Linked DNA regions of Homo sapiens. Each later gene encodes a partner of the first gene's protein in a complex. Each region holds a gene or a part of one and is shown on either strand. Other genes may lie near its edges.

Evidence for each region.
Region 2: SATB1 (region 1) and HOXB2 share a complex: the UniProt entries of both Homo sapiens proteins name them as parts of the nuclear protein complex.

The regions. Positions count from the first base shown.
Region 1 is NC_000003.12:18,379,460-18,387,901, reverse strand, and holds part of SATB1 (DNA-binding protein SATB1), read left to right. Parts: intron 1-1,290; coding exon 1,291-1,503; intron 1,504-8,442. UniProt on the Homo sapiens protein: Crucial silencing factor contributing to the initiation of X inactivation mediated by Xist RNA that occurs during embryogenesis and in lymphoma.
Region 2 is NC_000017.11:48,541,902-48,549,723, reverse strand, and holds HOXB2 (homeobox protein Hox-B2), read left to right. Parts: upstream 1-4,614; 5' UTR 4,615-4,812; coding exon 4,813-5,203; exon of another isoform or gene 5,204-5,766; coding exon of another isoform or gene 5,767-5,830; intron 5,831-5,976; coding exon 5,977-6,656; 3' UTR 6,657-7,069; downstream 7,070-7,822. UniProt on the Homo sapiens protein: Sequence-specific transcription factor which is part of a developmental regulatory system that provides cells with specific positional identities on the anterior-posterior axis.

The DNA.
Region 1 (8,442 bases):
AAATTTGGGAACAAAACCAGGTTTGTACTTCTAACAAACCATGAAAAAAACAAATGTTTTAACCTTGGGGCTTCATTGTTTTGACATGACACGTTACCTTCCTTCCCCCAATATACCTTTAACTGTTTCTGCAGGATATTGGAAAGTAGATTTGCAAATTATATAGAAATCCTGACAAAATTTTATTCTGAAGCTGATACTCTGGCTAAGTGAAGAAACCAAATATGTCTTACTATTCCAAGCATTATTTCATGTACAAGATTAAAGAGAGAAGAGCTGCTTAGCCCTTATAAAATGAACAGAAAATTTTCCAATTCTTTTATTTCATATTGTCTCTTAAATGCAATGGGGAGAACCACCCATTTTTGAAAGAGTTCTTCCAAAAGTTAAAAAAATTAGTTGAAAATTGATGTTCTGTTATTTAGGGGGGAAAGACACCTTAAGAGTTTTCTAATGATTTATAAATTTCTTCTATCACTAACAATTTTTATTCCCCAAGAAATTTGATAATTACAGAATTTGATACTCTTTTCCTTGGCATGCTGTGATGGACTTTCGCAATGTTGAAAATTAGTTAATATATTTCAAATCTTGTCTATGGTTTTTAAAGTTCAAAATTTAAACCTGTTACCCAGTGGTATAATACAGCAAGATAGTATTTAGAATCATTTGTGATAATCAGTGAGGTTCTCTGAAAATGGTAAATTGAAAGGGTCACGTAGTGTCATGTACTTTGATAAGTCAGAGTTTAAGGAATAATTTTAAACATTGCCTGTGAAAATACAGCATAAACCTTAGGTGATGCTTTAGTAATAACCTTTGTTCTAATATGTTAAAATTCATTTTCTGGTATTTTCTTTGAAAGTTCTACTTCTCTAGAAATGGCTTTGTATCTTTACATATTGGGCTGTAGGCATTACACTGCCTTTGTCTAGGCAGCTTGGGAACTATACAGTTCAGTGCTGTTGCATTATAAGGATTTCGTTTATTCTTAACTTCCCTGGATCGTCTCTCTGTGAAAGATTTCATGGCAAGTTAAGCTACTCAAAGGAAGGAGACCAATTAGGCAGTTTCAGTTTATGTTATATGTAAAGCAGATGCTTAATAAAATTAAGAATACAATTGAGGCTCTCTTCTCTACCACTTCAGTTGTAACTAATATATTCCTATGCAGAATTAATGCCTCTGACTGTTCATTTTCTAAACAGAGTGGAGAAGAAAAGGGAAGGATCACTGCTGGCCAGGCAAAGCAAGGCAGCAGGCTCACCCTGTGCCTTTCATTTCTTGCAGGGCTTGCTTTCAGAAATCCTCCGAAAGGAAGAGGACCCCAAGACTGCATCCCAGTCTTTGCTGGTAAACCTTCGGGCTATGCAGAATTTCTTGCAGTTACCGGAAGCTGAAAGAGACCGAATATACCAGGACGAAAGGGAAAGGAGCTTGAATGCTGCCTCGGCCATGGGTCCTGCCCCCCTCATCAGCACACCACCCAGCCGTCCTCCCCAGGTGCGGTCTCCTTTTCCTCCTTGCCCTTCTTTGTTTAGCTTTTTTTTAATGCTTGAGGAAGAATCTCAATAAGAAATTAGATAGATAGATACATAGATTTATATGTTTTTAAATTCGTATAGTTGCTTGAGGAGAATTTGGTCCCAAATCATTAATTCTGATATAAAAACAATAAGCTCCTAATTAGATAGAGGGAAGAAAATTGCTTTGTGTTCCTTCATTCTTTGGGTTATTTGGGGGTGAAAGTAGTCTTTAAATGGGATATTTGTCTCTACTGTTGTTATTAAGTAAAGTATTTTAAACTCAATAGAAAAAGAATAAAGTCAGTTTTTTCCCAACTGGTTTCAGAATCGCCATTTGAATAGTAAATAAATAAAAATAAATAATTTCATTTGTATTTATACTTTCCAGTACGAACTGCAGCTGGTACCAATTACACACCATCTCATTTGTAATCTTTCATAATTAAGTTTAATAAAATCCTTGAAGGCAGCTTTAAATGGGGCTGATAAGGAATTCTATCCATACTCCAAGATACGGGCATGTTTTCTCTTTCTTAAAATTTTTGGACTTTTTAGGAAAGAAAGTTGCCTTCCGGGTAACTTTGGGTATGTGAATCTGTATTGTTTTTTAAACTAAGTTTTAAAAGTAACCTCATAACTGTTATAATTCAGTAAATCAATTTGCATTACAAACCCTTAGATAAAAGTTTGCTAGTTAGTGTATTAGACTCAAAAACCACAAGCAAATATATTATCTTTTTTTTTTTTTCTTTTGAGATGGAGTGCCGCTCTGTCACCCAGGCTGGAGTGCAGTGGCACGATCTTCACTCACTGCAAGCTCTGCCTCCCGGGTTCACGCCATTCTCCTGCCTCAGCCTCCCAAGTAGCTGAGACTACAGGCATCTGCCACCACGCCCAGCTAATTTTTTTGTGTTTTTAGTAGAGACGGGGTTTCACCGTGTTAGTCAGGATGGTCTCCATCTCCTGACCTCATGATCCTCCCACCTCGGCCTCCCAAAGTGCTGGGATTACAGGCCTGAGCCACCGCGCCCGGCTGCAAATGTGTTTTCTTACATGTTTAACTTGTGACATTTACAGCTCTTAAAAATAAGGTCAGTTAAAATTGGATAAAAATTGAACATGGAAGAAAAAGTCGAAATATTCATATGACAATCTCATAGTGAAATTGTATCTCGATTTTACTTCATTCTCATCAATGGTAGAAAGTGGTTATACATTTTCATGTATAGAAATCTAGAAAAAACTCATTCAACACTAAAGAGTGAAAGTACTACGGATACTGCATAAATAAGAAATATTTAGCCACTTGTTGAGTAGCTAAATAAACTGCTTATCATAAGGTTCTGAAACTATTACTTTTTAGAAATGTCACAAAATCCATTTTCACTAGTTTATTTAATGAAAATCAATCTGGTCTTGATGTCTATAGGAACAGACTATAAGGAAATCATTGCTATAATTGTGAATAAAAAAGTCATGCTTCTTTAGGAGAAAAGCATGGCATCTATATACGTATGTACACACCCACCTGCCCACGCACACAAAGTTATTGAATTTGATCTCTAAATGCTTCTATAAAATATTTCCTAAGATAAAGAATGAGGAACTCTTTATGTATAAAAAATATGACTTCTAAGTATGGTTAAAGAGAAAAGATAAACTATGACTTCTAGGAATGATAAAAAAGAAAAAATATACGAAATGAAATAAAATAATTTGGTTTGGTACTTTTTCTGTAGTGTTTAGTGTTAATACACACACTTTTATTAGTTAACTTTGCTCCTGAAGTCACCACTGACAGGGCTCTGAGCAGAGAATTACTTTACTTATCACTTAATCTGCAATACTAATAAAAGAATGGCTTACTTAAGACCAATATGAACTTCAACATTGAACTGCTTTAAAAAAAAAAAAAAACATCTAGCCAGATATTTGACTTTGTGGTTCCTTAATACAGCTTTTGTTTTCTAATTTTTCTAGGACTCTGGTTTTATTTATTTTCCAAATGTGATTTGGGTGTCCTTACTCATCAAGCTTTTTCTTGAGCTAAAGTTATACCAATTCTTATTAAGTGATATTTCTTTTCATATGCTGTTAAGATACTATAGGATAACTTTCCTGTATGTATGCTTAAAGGCTTTATCTGCTGATAAGTTGGGATAGAATATATGTTTAATTTATTTTTGCCTGAATTATTGGTTAACTGGTTGTGCCACCCTTAGCTGTATTTGTTTGTTCTGAAGAGGAGCTGAGACCAAGCCCATAGCTAGGGTATTCAGCCAATGATGAAAATATACAGTATATACATACTGTAGATTCTTAGTGAAACTCTTTCAAATAAAACATTTCTATTACTGCAGTATTACTGGCCATCTAACCAAACTCCAAAATGACTAACTGATATGTGTATGTGTGTGTAATTTTATTTTGCTGCTGCAATATAAATCTTTAAATTATTAATATTATTATAATGGAGATCACTACCAGTTTGTTCACATTCTTCCCTTTAACCATGATTAAATGAATTAAATTTTAAGAAATCTTAAGGTATTAAAGGTATTATCAATGCAAAATTAGTACTTTAGATTTGGAAAAACACGTTATAGAGCACTTGAATTAGTGCTGTCTTGTAGCAGTTGAAATAATGAAATGATGCTTAAACTGGAACCAGTATGCATATTAAAAATGAGTTAAAATAAAGGATAAAATGGAGAAAACCACAGATAACACAGACTGCAAAATTTTGTCTTTTTAAATTTTACATTTTGCCAAAGAGGAGTCCATGTGAAATCAGTATACATTTCATTTCCCCCAAAATGAGGAGATTTGAAACATATTTTGAGACAAATCTTGGGTTTGGGTTGCACCTGAAACCTGATTTCTTTCTAAAGAACCACATGTTAAAAGCAGAGGCCCTCAGTGGTTCACAGAAAACCCAGCCCCCATTAAGGCCTGGGAAACTGGATTCTCTTCCACCTCTTTATAGAGTGTAAAACATGCAGAAGATGATTTTGGAGTGCCCTTGGGACATACCATAACAAGGACCTAAACTATTGAAGGACTTGAATTCTAAGTCATCTTCAAGAAAGGACTTCCTGGCTAGTCAGACCCCACCTGGGGACACCTAGCCTCAGGAAACACCAGAGCTCCTTGGTGGCCCAGTCCAGGTGAGATGCCTCCCTGCAGAGGTATCCCATGTGCTCCAGTAGGGACAGTTATGCCCTGTGCTTCATCCTCTGCCTGGGCTATAGGCTCTGGGCCAGACCTGGTTGCTGCAAACATTTTCACAACTTACATGCTCTAATTCAACAAATAAGAATATCTTGCACCTGATAATGATTCACACCCTAACTTGATAAAAGCTATTCTGAAAGCAGCTGAATACATTAATTCATTGAATCCTCATACCAACCTTTCCCTAGAAGAAAAATGAGAAAACCAAGTTTAAGGTTGAGTCAGAGTTTTCAAATCCTCTGCTAAGTCTCTTGCTCCTTCCTCTACTTCAAGCCACCTCCTCAGAATAAAAGCAAACTTATTTTAGAAAGGGAAAAGTGAAACTTGGAGATCTTTTTGTTTGTCATAGAGGATGGGAGGTTTTCTTGTTAGAATGGGAAGAGGAGCATGTGCTAAAGCATTGTCCTAATGAAATAACTTGTTTGACAAATTATCCAGTTGGGAAAACTAGACAATGGCATTTCTGGGATTGTGGGGAGAACAGCCCCTTTTAAACTTTGGTCTCATGAAAATATCTGGGAGAACCCAGTCCTCCCAGCTTCCTTGGTCTTAAGGTTTCTTTTCACTATAAGCTTTGCAGATTTTCCTGATGAGTTTATTAGAGGAATTTTTATGAACAATAATAATTCATGATTATTATCTGAGAATTGTATATTTTACAGAATTTTAAGTGATGATTTCTACCGTAAGGGTATACTTTTTAAAATTTGATTTGTGCATTTTATGGTGTGTGACTTTTGGAGTTAAATTAATTTAGCAGTTTGTTTCCATGAAGACTGTTTGAAAGCATATAATTACTGAGTTACAGCTTTTACATGAATTACACAAAAGTCTTTTTTTCTTCATTTTTTACATCTCTTTATGTAATTCTTCATTTTTTACATCTCTTTATGTAATTACCTAAAGAATTACTAAAGGTATGCTATTTCATAACAATGCTTTAGAAAATTTATGAAGTTAATATAAACAGTATATGATTAATCTGGTAGTTGCACTATTTTGTCTCTTTACAAGAAATCCCTCTACGATATAATGAAACATAGGTTCATCTTGATTTCAGGTTCAGTTACAGGCAGGAACTTAACACTTGGTAAAAGTTTTATTTCTTATGAATCCCTTGAAGATCATTTTAAGATGTTGCTTATGTGGTTATAAAATGCATCCCATTAATTGTCGTCTTTTAAAAGCTGGAAGACTTTTAAAGGCTAGATTTGGAAAATAATACTGTTCCTGGAAGGAAAGAAATATCTAAAAATATGAAACCATGGTGCTAAAGACAGTGTTAATATATTAAAATTTGAGAGTGGGAAATATTTTCCATCACTAATAAGCATCCATAAAAGAGGACATTTCTTATTTTCATTAATAAGAAAATATAATTTTTATACCCTGAAAAATAAATTTAGATTGGATTTTAATCAAAAATCAATAGCTATTAAAAAATTAGACATTAATGAGCTAGATTTATCAAAGGGCCACCAAAAAACAAGTCCAGCCTGCTCTAAAAATTAAGAATTTTTTCAAGTAAAGAAGGTGCAGGTAATGTCATGAACTCTAAATAACTTTGGGTTTCTAGTTAAGTTTAGATCTCAGCATTGCTCCACCAACAAATTGTTTAACCTGTTTGTTTTAACGGAGTTTTCTCAATTTTAAAATGGGACAATCATAATACCTCCTCCGGGCTGTTAGGCAAGTTAAGAAGTTAATATACATTAATACAATGTCCAGCACATAATAAACAACTAATAAATGTCAGTGTTTATTATCACAATTATTAAAACTACATATAACTTTAATTTTGCTTGTGTAAAAGCAGTGTGCTTGCAGGCAATTCTTCATGCATCAGAGTAGGATGTTCACCAATCAAGGCTGAAATAGAGTTCATTTCGTGTAAAATCTAAAAGCATGATTCAATGCATACAGCAATCCATGAAGAAGCAAAATAGAGTTTTTATGGAAAATGTGTGTCCTGCGGCACAATTTTAGTGAAATAAAAAGCAGACTCTAGTGCTGCACCCTATCCCCACATGGGAGGGTAAGTAGTAGAAGCTCCAATTCTTAACTACTTCCCCGGCGCCGCCTTAATAATGGAGTAGTACACCCTACCTTGATAAAAGCTATTCTGAAAGCAACTGCATTTATTTTACCTCCTGTGCTATTTGCGGAGAAGAGCTGAACAGTAGTTTGTTTTGCCTGGAATGAACTACTTTATGAATTTTAATGTGTGATATAATATTAAAAGCTAAACCAGGATTAAAGAAGATTTTTTTGTACTAAGCTAAAATAGTACTTAGTAGAGTGAGGTATAAAAGATTTTTGTTTCCATTTTTACCTGGGGAAAAATTCAGCTTTCATATTTTTGAAAAGCTGTCCAAGTCAGTTTCCCTTAAGCAATAGCTTGTGTTTAGGAAAAAAAAAAATGTGATTCTAGAATTCTAATAGCTTATCTATGATAAGATGTGTATCTGGGCCAACAAAATGGTAAAGAAGAGCTTTCCTAAATATTTTTTAAATGAGTAGTACAGAGATACTTTCTAACTTTGTAATTGTTAAAGTTTCACCCTCACATTCTTTTTTTAAAAAAAAATATTTCTTGTATACTTTTTTCACTTTTGTTTTGATTGTGTTGGCTACTAGGAAATGATTTTTTAAAATAATTTAGAATTTGTGCTTGATTATAATTGCTTTAAAATAAAAAAAAAAATTAACCAAAGAAGTTTTTAGAAACAAAGTCACAGGGTTGAAACAAATGATTATAGCGCACCTCAAAGATAAATTCTTAAACATCATTTTTACAAAATAATGAAAATTACTTTAAAAACAGATCGAAACACCAACTTTCCAAAGTCTGTTCTTTTAACTATTGCTTAGCAGATTGCTACCAAGGATCTGTTTCTTCAGTGCACTGGACTTGGTGCCCCCATTTCCATAACATTCAGTTTTCAAAATGATTGAAATGGCTTTTCTTTTCTCTTTCATTTAAGCAGTGAGAAAAATAGGTATTAAAAGGGACCCCATGGGGTGATCAAATCTATCCCTCTGCCTCAAAGCAAGACCACCCCAGAGCAAAGTTTCCAATCTCACCAAAGCAACTTTGTAGGCAATTTATGGTAATGTGTTGTTAACTCTTCTGGCTCTTAAAGTGGTGTTTAACAGATTATTGCTTCAAAGCCCTGTATGTGTTCTAGTGGCCTCCAGTCATTAATATATCTCTATGAGTGCCCTTGCTTACTAGAGTGGCAAAGCTAGAAGGGGAACTCTGGAGAGGAGGCGGATGAGGCCCCACCTTTGGTCACCTGTCCTGCCTTACCTGCTGTGTCCCCTTCAGGCCTGCGGGCCAACTATTTCCCAGCATTATCTTTTCCATGCTTGGAAAGGTGGTATCATGGTGAAAGCATCTACCAGCTTTCTCAAGATAAGCAAGAGGTGAATTATTTTGCTAATTGGCTAGAAATTAGGATTCAGCAGGCACATTTTAAAGGGATCTCCTATTTATGCTTTAAGTACGGAGAATTGAATCACTGAATATTTTAGGAACAGAGTAAAATAAATCTTAAAGTCCTGCAGCTTGACTCAAAGGCTATATCATTTAATGCCAAAAAAATCATTTGTTTATTCTACAGCATACTTCATTTTCTATTTTCATGGTTTATGTGAGAAATTGTCCAGGATGGTAAGTTTC
Region 2 (7,822 bases), on another chromosome or scaffold:
ATCAATTACAGTTTTTAGAGGGCTCAGGGATGGTGAGAGATCCTGAAAGAGCTGCCTATATTATAAATTATATACATTTTTTTTTAAGGAAAAGTGTGGAGGCTAGGGCAGGCAGGTTGTTAGGACTGAAGGTTTGCCCATTCTGCTGCCTCCATCTCAGCTCCAGCTCCATCCCCCTCTCCACAGAAAGCAGTTGGTGACACGAGGTTCTATACTTTTCTTCTGTTGCTCTCTTGACTTAACGTGAAAACAGGGTATATTTGAACAAACTGTCCCAGGCAGGGGCTGGGCAGGGCCTGTGTGCCTTGCTCAGCCTCCTGACAGGACACTTTTGTTGCACTTAGAATTTACATTTTAATGGATGTAAAAACAACTGTGAGAGATGTCTGGGCCTGCAGAAGTCCAGCATTGCTCAAAAAAGCGTGTGTTCTAGTGAACATTTTCATATATATTTATTGGTTATAGCCTGTTAAAATATTTTCTTTTTTGTATTATTTATCCCCCTACATTATGTATTTATATGAGGGAAAAAAAGGAAAAAATTGTACTTTTTTAGTATTTACCTGTTACAAAGGACATTGTGTTTCCTGTCATGTAAAACCAGCTATTTTAGTTACTATTGTACTCTAGAAAAGAGCTGTAGATTTATGTTAAACTCGTACTTACGAACAATTGTAATTAGTTCTAAAAGGCATGAACTCAGCTCCTAATCGTCACTGTATAGTCCTGAATTTGTAGAACTAGAGTTAATTCCCTCTTGGAACTTTCTTTGTTCTTCAGTAGTTACTTTTTTCCTTACCTAAAAGGGTTGTCTGTCAAACAATTCTTGAATAAACTTTCTGTTATCAATTTTATCTTGTCCTGGTGGTCCAATTTAGATAGCAGAGCAAGGCTGCTGACTGCCAAATTTCCCCCAAGGGAAGAAGGACAAGGACAAGGACACTGAAGACCCTTCCCTGGCCTTTTTGTCCACTGCCCAGGTTCCTGTCTCCCCCTTGATATGTCTTAAGTTTAAATACCATTTTCTCACTCATAAGAGCCTGTAACATTTTGCCAACTTCTTCAGCTGTGGTTTAAGTAGCAAGTTGGGAGGTAACGGGGGACTCTTGGATGCTCTCTGTAGGTTTTTCTGTTTGGCCTGTATGCCTCTAGGTTTTTCATTCATTGACCTTTCGTCTGTTAGCTCCTTTGGCCACAGCGTCCATGCACCCCCCACCCCCCACCCCTTCCCACCACCACCAAGAAAATCTGGCCGATTACGGTTTCTTCCACGAAACCTAAACTTCACAATCCTCTTCCGGAGCCACAAAGAAGGTGTCACGTGACCCGAAGCCCAACCACCATTGGGTCTAAAATGAAAACAAAGAAAAATGATTAATCTAAAAAAAAAAAAAAAACAAAACTGAGGCCTAGACTTCTCAGGTCAAACTTTAAAACTAAGTAAAATTAAATCACTAAATAAAACTCGAGGCGGAGGGAGGGGAAGCACGTTCGATTTCCCCTGCCAGAGAAAGGGGAGAGGAGGGTGGGAGAAGCTGTTGGATCCAAGCGTAAATAAAACGGTCCCCAGGCTAATGTGCGGCTCTGTTTCCATCATCCTTGGGAAAACTTCATTTCTTAGTTGTGGTTCCATAAAAGTTTTATCACATTGGAGTGAAAATAGAGAAGGTCTGTCAAAGATGAAATGTCACCGCCGAGTCGCTGGAGCCGATAAGAGCGAGAAGACAGGGCGGCTGAAATATGGAGCTAATTCGTTGAAAGAGAAGCGATGGCTGCTTGCTGAAGAGCTGCATAATTCTAATTGTAAGCGATGTGCCCGCATTGCTTAATTAGGAGCATATATTTGGTGGTAGTGATGTTGGGGGAGTGAGAATCGTTCCAGGCCCTGCCTTAAAGAGAGGGCTGATTTTCATTTTTATGTTGCATCCTGGCAGTCCAAGGTTAGTAATTATAGTCTTTATGCAACAATAAATAACAATAAAAAAGCAACCTGAACTCTACGCCCTCCCCCTTCCCCACCACCAAGTAGGATTTTAACTGGACTCATCCAAGCAGCAAGCAATTTAGCATTGGGTCAGGCTATAATTTAAAGGCATAAGAGCGTGCAAAGTTTGATTGGGATCAAATAACGCTCAAGGGTTTTTCTTTCTTTCTCTTTCTCTCTTCTTCCTTGAATAACATTTTCTGAATGATATAACTAGATGAAGCACCATGTTTGGCTCTGGGGCTGGGTTGGGTTGTTATTTATCTAGCAGGAAAGAGGCCAAGAAAGAGAATTTAGCTTAAGTTTGAAAAACAGAGCTTTGGCTCGAAGCTGGAATTGCAAACAAGAAAAATAAGAACCAACTTGGCTTGGTGTTCCCTATCCTTCTCTTTGGAAGATTCCAGGCGCTCAGCTAAAGCAGCCAAAGACGTGGGTAAAATATCCGTGCTGTTAAATTCACAGCAGGACAGGGGGGCGGGGGAGGGATGTCTCTGAAAAGGAGGGTTCTCTGGGCCCCTTTTAACACCCAAGTTTTCCGCTGTTTGCTAATCTGGCCATAAAATCTGTCAGTGAGGGTTAGAGAGAGCTGTATTTCCTGCAGGGACAGTCTGCCCGAGTTGCCTGAGATAAGCTCTGGATCCTTCAGCCAGCTACAGAAGCTGTTGCTAAACTTTCAGAGGTGTTCAAGGGGGTGGCCAGAGGGAGAACCCACTCTCAGGCCTCCCTGCATGACTTCCAGACAGCTACTATTTGGATTATTCTATGCCCACCCCCATCCACACCTCTAAATGGCAAAAATTGTTTTCTTTGGAGCCTAGTTGCACACTACTGTCGCTGGCCACTTTGCCCAGGTCAGAGCAGCTCTCTCTGTTCTGAGCCCTCCAGAGCATGCCTCCTCGGTCCCTGCAGCCCCCACCTCCAACTCCCCTTTCTCCATCCTCCTCTCCCCCACCCTCATGCTTCTACTCAGACTTCTCTGTCCTTCTTTTTAAGTACTCACGCAGATGTTACACTGACAGAAAGTTTCTAGTTCCAGCTCCGGGCTCAGTTGCCATTTCTCTGCTAACCAGCCTTCTCCTCCTGGCTGGGCAGCAGAGAGAGAGGAGGGGGAGGGGAGGCCAAAGCCATGGGAGTTCTCCAGGCAAACTTTCCACCCAACTTAGCGCTTTCCCTCTGTCCCCATTTCCCATCTGTTTCCCAGCTCTCCCAGAATCACCCTTCTCTTTTGCACCCCCACCCCCACCCCCAGGCCTTTTTAAGGGATGTGAAATTTTGGCTGTTCGCTCTGCTTTCCCAAAGAGCCAAATTCTTTGATGCAATCGGAGGGAGCTGTCAGGGGGCTAAGATTGATCGCCTCATCTCCTCTCCATCCGTCTGACCCACTTATTTAAAAATCTTCCCCCAGATCGACTTTTCATTTTCTGCTTTGAGGCCTAGTTTCCCACCAATTGCTTGGGGCTCAGAGTCTTGTGCCCTCTCCCCATAGTAAATTACAACACTCTAAACTTCAGACTATCTTGGTCTCCTCAAAATAAAATAAATTTTAAAAACATTTTCCCCCAGCAGCCAGAAATGGAATATCATCTCAGTGGTCATTATTTCCACCCCTACCATCTTCAGGGAATTCTTCCTTGTCAGGGATTCTTTTTTTTTTTTTTTTCTTTTTTCTTTTTTAACTAGCACAATGGCAAAAATGGGAGGGAAAGTCTCTTTGTCCTAGGGGAAAATCTCCCCACCACACTCATGCACACACATAACGCTGATCTGAACTTTGAGAGTGCTCTAAGTTAAACCAATGGCTACCTCAGTTCTTGTTCATGTCCCTGGATATGGATACAGATACAAGCTTGAGGCTTGAGTGGGTACATGCACATCTTAGACTCTGCCTGTTTTTGGGGGATGTCACAGAGAAGCATGGAAGCCTGAAAGTGAGGAAAGCAGGGGTACATAAGGGGCAGAGGCAGTGCTGCAAACACTGGGCAGAGAAGAGAACCCAGACCATACAGCGATGGAGGCCAGAGGCCCAAAAATGCCCCTTATGCTCCATCTCACTCCTATGTGTCTGCCTGGGAGTTCCTGTCCATTTCCCAAGATTTAACTGTTGTTTTTGGAGGGTAACAGGGATAGTGGTGTGATGATTGTAAATCTCTTTCTTATTTTCACCTTAATACTGACCTTTTTCAAAGAGTGGAAGCCTCTTTCGACTCCCTCTTCCTCCAACGCGGAGATCCTCACTCATCTTTTCCTGGGGAAGGGGAGAAGGGAAGGGGATGCTGCTGGCCACGTAAAGAAGGCCTTAATTTACTCTATTAAAATACTTGGAAAAGAGGAAGGTTTCTCCCTTAGAGTCTCTTCTTTTCCAGGCTTCTGAAACCTTCTAACCTTCGAAGGGGATGAGGAAAAGGTTCCTCTAGCTTTTCTGGAGAAACGGAGGCATTGGGGAGAGAGCATGTGAGGCACTGGTGTAGGAATGGGGGCTCATGGTGTCCTGGTCGTGGTCCTCTGGTGTTTTTGAATCAATTAAACCAAATAATGCTCTCTGTTTTCCACCAGGCCCAGACGAGCGATTGGCGGAGGCCGGTCCCGTGACCACGAATTCCCTGTAATTTCGCTGGAGTCCTGGGTTTAATAGAGAGAGTCCCCATACGCTTGTATTTATCAGCAATATACAATTATAAAGGCCCAAAATTAAAAAAAAGAGAGACCGAAATCTCCCCCTCCCAAAATCGCTCCATTACATAAATCGGGGGGGGTGCAGGAGGGGGGTCCCTTCCGATCCTCCCTCCTGACGCCCCCCCCAGCAGCCCCCTCCCCCACCATTGAAAGCCATGAATTTTGAATTTGAGAGGGAGATTGGGTTTATAAACAGCCAGCCGTCGCTCGCCGAGTGTCTGACTTCCTTCCCCGCTGTCTTGGAGACATTTCAAACTTCATCAATCAAGGAGTCGACATTAATTCCTCCTCCTCCTCCTTTCGAGCAAACCTTCCCCAGCCTCCAGCCCGGCGCCTCCACCCTTCAGAGACCCAGGAGCCAAAAGCGAGCCGAAGATGGGCCTGCTCTGCCGCCGCCACCGCCGCCGCCACTCCCCGCTGCCCCCCCGGCCCCCGAGTTCCCTTGGATGAAAGAGAAGAAATCCGCCAAGAAACCCAGCCAATCCGCCACGTCTCCTTCTCCGGCCGCCTCCGCCGTTCCGGCCTCCGGGGTCGGATCGCCTGCAGGTCGGTAAGCGTGGTGGGGGTGGGGTGAGGGGCAGCTAGAAGAGGGGGAGAAAAAGCAGTGGAAGGAGGTTTAAAAAAAATGGTGGCGAGCCTGTTGGGGTTCCTTACCCCCTCCATTCCTGGGATGGGGAAGTAGAATATCCCACTGGGGTTCAGGCCTGGCCGCTAACAGCGTCTTTTTTTTTTTCTGTCTCTCTCTCTCTTTCTCTCCCTATGGCTGATTTTGGAAGCTGGTTGGGGAAACGCCTTTTTTTCTGCTAGAAGAAAATGATTTGATTGAGGTTTTCACCCGTATCTGTGTAGGGGAATGAGTATGTTGTTGCTGGGATAGACCCTAGAAGCAGAAAAGATTCGGTCCTTTCTGCCCCAACTCTAGGAGAAGAGGAAGAATTCAGAGCTAGGGAGGAAGAGGGGTGAAGAACAATCTTTCTGACCCTCGCTCCGGTTGAGTTGGAAAGTTCCGAATTGAGGGGTCCACTGGGAGGGCTTGGGAGGGGGATCTGAGGTTCCGGCGCCGAAGGGAGCCGCTCTCCGCCCCCTGCGTGGCCCGTGGGCGGCTCTGAATGCTTTGCCCTGACCCGGGCCGGGGCTGTAGACTAGAGAGGGAGAGAAGAAAACCCAAAAGCAGTAAAGCGAGCGGCTTTGGGGTGGGGGCGGGGGTGGGGTGGCGAGGAAGGGGAGAGGTGATACTGGTTTTGGAGGATGGGGTAGTCCGAACTGAGGTTGGGCTGAGTACACGGCCCGCTATGACGCCGAGCCTGTTTTCCCTGCAGATGGCCTGGGACTGCCGGAGGCTGGTGGCGGCGGGGCGCGCAGGCTGCGCACGGCTTACACCAACACGCAGCTGCTGGAACTGGAGAAGGAATTCCACTTTAATAAGTACCTGTGCCGGCCACGCCGCGTCGAGATCGCGGCCTTGCTGGACCTCACCGAAAGGCAGGTCAAAGTCTGGTTTCAGAACCGGCGCATGAAGCACAAGCGGCAGACGCAGCACCGAGAGCCGCCGGATGGGGAGCCTGCCTGCCCGGGAGCCCTGGAGGACATCTGCGACCCTGCCGAGGAACCCGCGGCCAGCCCGGGCGGCCCCTCCGCCTCGCGGGCGGCGTGGGAAGCCTGCTGTCACCCGCCGGAGGTGGTGCCGGGGGCCTTAAGCGCGGACCCCCGGCCTTTAGCCGTTCGCTTAGAGGGCGCAGGCGCGTCGAGTCCCGGCTGCGCGCTGCGCGGGGCCGGCGGGCTGGAGCCCGGGCCATTGCCAGAAGACGTCTTCTCGGGGCGCCAGGATTCACCTTTCCTTCCCGACCTCAACTTCTTCGCGGCCGACTCCTGTCTCCAGCTATCCGGAGGCCTCTCCCCTAGCCTACAGGGTTCTCTCGACAGCCCGGTCCCTTTTTCCGAGGAAGAGCTGGATTTTTTCACCAGTACGCTCTGTGCCATCGACCTGCAGTTTCCCTAACCTGTTTCCTCCTCCCGGTCCTTTCGACCCCCGCGCTCCTTGGCCGTCTACTGGAAAAATCGAGCCTCTCCCACCCTCAGTCGCATAGACTTATGTGTTTTGCTAAAATTCAGGTATTACTGAATTAGCGTTTAATCCACTCCCTTTCTTCTTCTTCTAAAATATTGGGCACTCGGTTATCTTTTAAAATTCACACAGAAAAATTCCGTTTGGTAGACTCCTTCCAATGAAATCTCAGGAATAATTAAACTCTAGGGGGACTTTCTTAAAAATAACTAGAGGGACCTATTTTCCTCTTTTTTATGTTTTAGACTGTAGATTATTTATTAAAATTCTTTAATAATAGGAAAAGGGGAAAGTATTTATTGTACATTATTTTCATAGATTAAATAAATGTCTTTATAATACCAAAACGAGTGTTTGTGTTGGGACCTAAACTCTTTCCCCGCGGCCCCAAGGCCGGTCCTCACCCCTCCAGGACCTGTGCGAAGTTGATTAGGTTCAGCGGCCCATATGGCAGCAAAGCCTCCAGGGCCGGCGAAGTCCGGGTGGTACAAAGGTGACCCGATTGATGGCCGCTTCGCCCACGGCTCCGGCAAAAGTCGGGAGTTTGCAGGAAGCTGGGTCACCTCCCCGCCCCTCAGCAGAGGGTCTTTGGTCCTGAGCGGGTGGTTCTGGGGCCTCTGCTTGGAAATAGAGATGGGCAGGTCGAGGGAGAGAGTGTACAGCGAACAGAGGAGGGTGAAAGGAGAGGAAGCCTGTGGACAGTCTTCAGGGTCGTGGCGGGGGCAGAAGTTTACTGGAATTGGGAACAATCCAAGGGCTTCCTAGGCTTTTGCTTCTTATGACCGAAGCCGGTGTAGGACCTTTTTCCGAACTCAAGAAGCCTAGGGACGCGAGGCCTGGGGCTTGAGCCGGGCCTCTTTGGGAGCTGTAGGTGGCTCTCCAAGGAGTGGAGTGGGGTCGGGGATTTTCTCGGGAAGCAGGGTCCCGCACCCAGGGATGGTAACTGGCTTCCCAGTGGGCAAGAAAAGAGGCCAGCTGAGAAATGTGGCGCTGCCGGGACACCCATGGACTCGGGCTGCTGGGGTTTGGGAGACCATCCAAGCAGCAGCCGGGCGAGAAGCCCAGGGTGGCCCGGCAGCGTCGCGAGGCGCTGGACCTGC